2 separate regions of the Homo sapiens genome follow, and region 1 is linked to region 2. Evidence: fine-mapped expression QTL. A gene starts in region 2. The other region holds a variant in brackets. All regions are shown on one strand. Distances are between the middles of the regions.

Evidence for each region. PIP is the estimated chance that this variant, and not a neighbour inherited with it, causes the effect.
Region 1: its variant is fine-mapped to the expression of SLC6A13 in thyroid (GTEx, PIP above 0.99). The same link has a PIP of 0.9 or more in liver.

The regions. Positions count from the first base shown.
Region 1 is chr12:225,382-228,293 of GRCh38, forward strand. It overlaps SLC6A13 (solute carrier family 6 member 13), which reads right to left. Exons shown (of 15, transcript NM_016615.5): 8 at 2,184-2,287; 9 at 1,009-1,133. Among named protein-coding and RNA genes, the nearest start is that of SLC6A12, 13 kb to the left of the region's middle. The variant C/A (reference allele first, on the strand shown) is at 1,375.
Region 2 is chr12:261,540-264,451 of GRCh38, forward strand. It overlaps SLC6A13 (solute carrier family 6 member 13), which reads right to left and starts at 1,297. Exons shown (of 15, transcript NM_016615.5): 1 at 1,250-1,297.

The sequences.
Region 1 (2,912 bases), 36 kb before region 2:
GCTTATGCCTATAATCCCAGCACTTTGGGAGGCTGGGGTGGGTGGATCACTTGAGGCCAGAGGTTCAAGACCAGCCTGGCCAACAAGGTGAAACCCTGTCTCTACTAAAAATACAAAAATTAGCCGGGCGTGGTGGCACATGCCTGTAATCTCAGCTACTCGGGAAGCTGAGGCATGAGAATCACTTCAGCCCGGGAAGCGGAGGTTGCAGTGAGCCGAGATCATGTCACTGCACTCCAGCCTGAGTGACAGAGCAAGACTCTATCTCAAACAGTTTAAAAAAAAAAAAAAAAAGAGGGAGAGAGAGACACTATCGTTCTTAAAGAGAATCACAGACATCCACTGCCCAGGGCTTGGCATCCTGTGTGGCCCAGGCGTGCTTCTGAATGCCAAGGTAAAAAAATCATATTATTACAGGGCAAAGTAGGTGAGCAAGAGAAACATTTTATGGCTTATCCAGACTGGGGCCTGGGCCTTGATGTTATTTGAAAGCAGCAAAATAGCACTGCATGGTGGAAAGGCAGTCACTCACAAAAGAGGGAAACCCTATCTGCTGATGGAAACTTCGCCTTGAGATTCATTTTATAGTGAACAAAACGAGGCCAGGTGCGGAAGAGTGTGTATAATATGTTATCATTTGGTTTTTTAAGAAGGAGGCAAGAAATAGAAATAGTAATATGTATTGCATGTATATGTCTGTATATATATTTTTTCTCATATATGTCTAAACTATTTCTGGAAGGATAAACATGAAATAGATAACATTGGCTGCTTCCAGGGTAATGAACTGGAAGCCAAGGATGGGAAGAAAAATGTTCACTGTAGGCCTACTCTTTAAAGCTGGAATGACTGTTTCAATTCTCCGCCAAGTCTTCCCAGAACGCATCCACTGAATGGTGGCCGTAGCTCACCCAGAGTGCAGGTGACACAATGGAAACGCCTCTAGACGCTTGCTGCCAGAGGTTTGAACCAGGCTCACTGCCTCCAGGCCTCCCCAGTAACACTCACCTGACTCGGCCACCTCAGAAATGGGCACCCCCTGCTCCTGAGACATGAAGCCCAGGATGGAGAAGATGGCAAAGCCGGCCACAAAGCTGGTGCCGCTGTTGAGGAAGCAGAGGGCGATGCAGTCCCTGTGGGGCAGGGGTGAGGAGAGGGCGGAATGGCAGGGTCAGAACAGGGCTGCAACCTCTCCTGCTTCCTGTCTGGGAGCACAGCCCCTCCTGGCGGACACTGTCCTGGCCCCTTCACGGACGCCGGAGCAGGGCTACCTGGCAGAATTCAGAGGACCACGCAAAGCACTGGCTCTCCTCCGACACTCCTCGGCCCCACCAGCCCAGGGACGGAATAAATCAAGGTAGTCCTAAAAGAATG[C/A]GGCTCCAGGGAAGCAAAACATGGATCTAGATGTGACAAACCGCCACACAGCCGCCCCTCTCTACCACGTAGGTCCACACCGCATGGGACGCCACCACTCTGCCATCATCCCATCTGGCATGCTAATGGGTAATCCCAAACAACAAATAACTCTTAGTCGCCTGAATTCAATTTTGAGAGGCACCATATGATTTCACTTCAGCTGTGTTTCAGCGTGTATTAAAATTGGCTTAAATTTTCTGAGCACAAACCAGGTAGGCAAGGAGAGAACGAGGGGGACAGGATGTGAAGTGAGGGAGATGGTGTGAAAAAGGGGCAAGGATTCAAAGTTTTGGGGGCAGATTTACCAAGCAAGCAAGACTGGGGTGCACAGTAGGACCTCACTTCACATCATGGATACATTCTCGCAAATTGCCATTTTAAGCAAAACAACCTATAATGAAACCAGTTTTTTTTCTCTCATCAAAGTTATAAGGAAACGACATTATTCAAAGACCTGTGGTGCTTCTCAGGCTTGCTTACCCAGCACTCCTGAGCCCACTAACCTCTACATCAGCCAGGAGGCCAGGCACCCCTGCTGTGGTCTCCCAGCCAATCACAACTATCCCACCCTTTCGGATGCAATTCTCTGTCCATCTTGCAGTTGGCTCCTTGCAGCTCCTGGTAGCCCTGGGGTGTTGGATATGGGGGTGTAGACAGGGGGGCAGATCCAGGAGCTGATGCACCCTCCAACTCACCCTCGTCTAGCGTGGCTGGAAGGACAGTAGAGAGATGCAGGTGTGTGGCTCAGGCCCCACGCCCCCAATCACCTGTAGCAGTTGTTGTGGTACTTGTTGTAGCTGCCCAGGGCTGTCAGGCACCCAAGACAGATGGCGAAGGAGAAGAATATCTGGGTGCCTGCATCCATCCACACCTACAAAGGGGAAGGGCAAGAAAGGTGAACTCCCAGGAAAGCCAGGCCATTCAAGCCATGGGCGGACACAGGCATGTGGCTGAGCCAGACACTGGCTAGGGATGGCGAGAAACCTGTTCTCAGCCAACACTTGCATCCTGCTACCTCTGCTCACCCCAGTGGGCTCTACTCCCTGGACTCCTAGGTGAAGTTTCTTGGGCACTACTAGGATAGAACAGGCATTAGGCATTCAAAGAAAATGAAAAAGACTAAAAGACCCATGGTGGAAGCGTGTAGGAGGGTGGGACAGGGCTCTAGAATGAAGCTAGGTCTCCTGTCAGGTTTTTGATCCTAGGTTCTGCCCCCACTCTCTCCTATGACCAGTGTGGAGGAATCCAGGCACAGGGTCTCCAGGAACACTGTCCCTAATAGCAGGGCCACCACCAGTATGTAGCTTTGCCCCTCACGTCTCAGCAACCTCTGTCTAAAGACAGGGAGAGTAATTCTCGGCTCACAAAAAGGCAAAAGGACGAACAGAAACACCTCTGAAAAGGGCTTTGTACTCCTTGGGAGGGAAAAAAATCACAGTCCAGCTAAACATAGAGTTCAGTTGTTATTGTTATTATCTCAGCTGGCTCGCCCAGCC
Region 2 (2,912 bases):
AGCCTCAAGCAAAGTTCATGTTAACAGAACTTTCTCAGCAGTAACCTCTTCTGGCCACAGACTCTACTTTGGCTCTGACCCAGAAAATTAGAAAGTCAGTGAACAGGCCGGGTGCAATGGCTCACGCCTGTAATCCCAGCACTTGGGAGGCCGAGGCGGGTGGATCTCCTGAGGTCAGGAGTTTGAGACCAGCCTGGCCAACATGGTGACACCCCGTCTCTACGAAAAGTACAAAAATTAGCTGGGCATGGTGGCAGGCACCTGTAATCCCAGCTACTCAGGAGGCTGAGGCAGGAGAATCGCTTGAAACCAGGAGGCAGAGGTTGCAGTGAGCCGAGATCGCGCCACTGCACTCCAGTCTGGGCAACAAAGCGAGACTCTGTCTCAAAAAAAAGAAAAAAAAAAAAAGTCAGGGAACAGCAGGCATCTATGTTTATCTGATAAATTAGGGAATGAGCTCCTTTCTACAAAGGAGAAACTCAAGTAACTGGTCCCAAGAGGGCTCCTCAGTCCTTTTGGGAAGGTTGTCTAAGGTACTGACTGTGCTGGCCTCCCCTCCCTTTACCAGCTGATGGATCTCTCCCAGTGATGGAAAGCCTTCCCTTCTCCACCCTCCCAGACCCTAGGAGAAACAGTAGCCTTCTCCTGGCTCCCTTAGCCTCATTAGAGCTGCTTCTCAGAGGTAGCATGTTGTGTCTGAAAGGTCATGAGCTGTAGAGTCAGATGAGGCCAGGTTCAAACATTAGTTTTTTCTCATACCAATGTCTGACTTCAGAGAAGTTAATGAATGACTCTGAGCCTTAGTTTGTTCATCTGTAAAAGTGGGGATGATAGATAGGATATACTTAGCTATAAGAATTAAATGAGGAAATATACATATGTATACACACTTAATAGAATAACAGGTACTCAAATTTTTGTTTTCTTTCAGTCCTGTCAGAGTTGATCATTGTTCTCTTTTCTCAGAGAAGAAAGACTTTGTTTTCTTGGAGTTAAATCCAGTTGTCTTTCCTCTCAATCTAGGGCTCTCTCTTTCCAAATCACAGTGTCACTTAAGTCAACAGCCACCCAAGTTTCAGAAAGTCAAGAAAATAGCACATAATCTTTGCATTTGCACACATACATGTCAGAAGCGTACTTTCTAGGCGAGGGTAAGAAAAAAGTCCTTTGGTTGTAAGTCCCATGGATCCCACCAACCTGCAGTCTGAGACGCAGAAATAGAAAAAAAAGAGAAGAAAACATTTCGAACCTTAGTGAAGCTGCTGCCAGAGGTCCAGTCAGGGGAGAAGAATTATCTAAGGGGGAAGGAGAAGGTGCTGGCTATTTAAAGTGTGGTTCCAGAACGCCTCTGTGGCACTTGAAATTCTAAACTTGGCCCAGCCCACATTCCACCCTTGTGCCTCCCCCTCCCCTTTTCTCCCCTCCCCTCCCCTCGGCCACTGGACAACCCACACATGAGTGATTTCGCAGTCTGGGGAGTGTGCACGCCCTGGCAGGTCGGGCCAGTTGCTGGTGAGCTTATGAAGTGTGGTCTCCTCCCCGGAGCTCATGTGCGCTTCCCACCTGGTGAGCTCAGGGTCTCTCTGGAGGGATCCTGCCTCCCACCCCTGTCTCCAACACAAGTGCTCCTATAAATCCATCAAGAATAGGTATTCCTTTGGTCAGGTGCTGTGTAGATTAATTTAAAAATACATTTATCTTACCGTTTCGCAGCTTGCAATGTGGAATGGACGATGATTTAGAACAAAGATACATAGATACAGAACTCTGAGATGTCAGAAAAACTTCCCAAACATACACAGACATTTATACACATATAGAAAAAGTCTGAAAAAATCTTCGCTAAATGATTAATAGTAGTTACATTTGTAGAGTGGAACTGAGATCAGGAGATGGCAGTAAGGGAGATTTTTTCCCCACTTTTTCAATATTGTTTAGATTTTTTAATATGCTAGAATTTTAAAATATTTTTTAAATCAATAGAGAAAAGGAAGTGCCAACGTTTAAAATAAAGCAAAGCCCTAAAGCTGTTATAAGGGAAGGAGCAGGCGGTGAGCGCGAGGCCGAGGTCATCCAGGGAGCTTCGTTTCTCTGCAGGAACAGCCCACAGAGGCGGCTGTGAGAGTAGTTCATTCAGCCTGGAGTCTAGGACAGGGCAGAGTCCCACCTCAGCCATGTGCTGAAGCACAGTACATGTAGTGGAAACCTGCTCAGACTTTGACACCAGAGAGTGTGGGGTCTGAGTCCTACGTATGCCACTGTCTAGCTTGAGATTTCAGGAGATGATGACTAACTGTAAATGGCAGCTGTTATTCATCCTTAAGGGATTATTCACAGTGAGCAGTGAGCCCGGAAGTCTTCTTGAAGGAGACGGGACTGAGAGACCCCTGAGCTAAGCTGGGCTCTGGCCAGACTGTGAGAATGAGTTAGGTAGGGGATGCGGCAATGAGTGAGTGAGGTGATAGAGACATCTTGAGATGACGGAGAAGTGTGGAAAGAAAGACGGATCGAAGAGTCTAAGGTAGTTTCCGTTTCCTTGATCCCTCATCTAACTCAAGGGCATGGGGTAGGGGCATGGAAACACTGCATGGTAATACCTGGAGAGCTTCCCAGAAGCTTCTTGGAAATTATTATTCTTATGTTTCAGCGGCCCCTGTTCCTCTCCCCTTTCAAGCTTTCATCTGTTAGACTGAGCTCTGTAAAGCAATAAACCAAAAGCGTCCTGAGACAGCCTACAAACTCATGTAAAAAAAAGACCATCTTCAAAGCAGTGCTATTGACTTCCATTTTTACGTATCACTGAGTGGTACTTACTAATGGCCTACTATGCATTATAAACTTTGGCATTTGTAATCTAAAATTACCAGATAACGGGTGTTTTCTCAGATACCATTCAGCCTTTGGCAATGTTG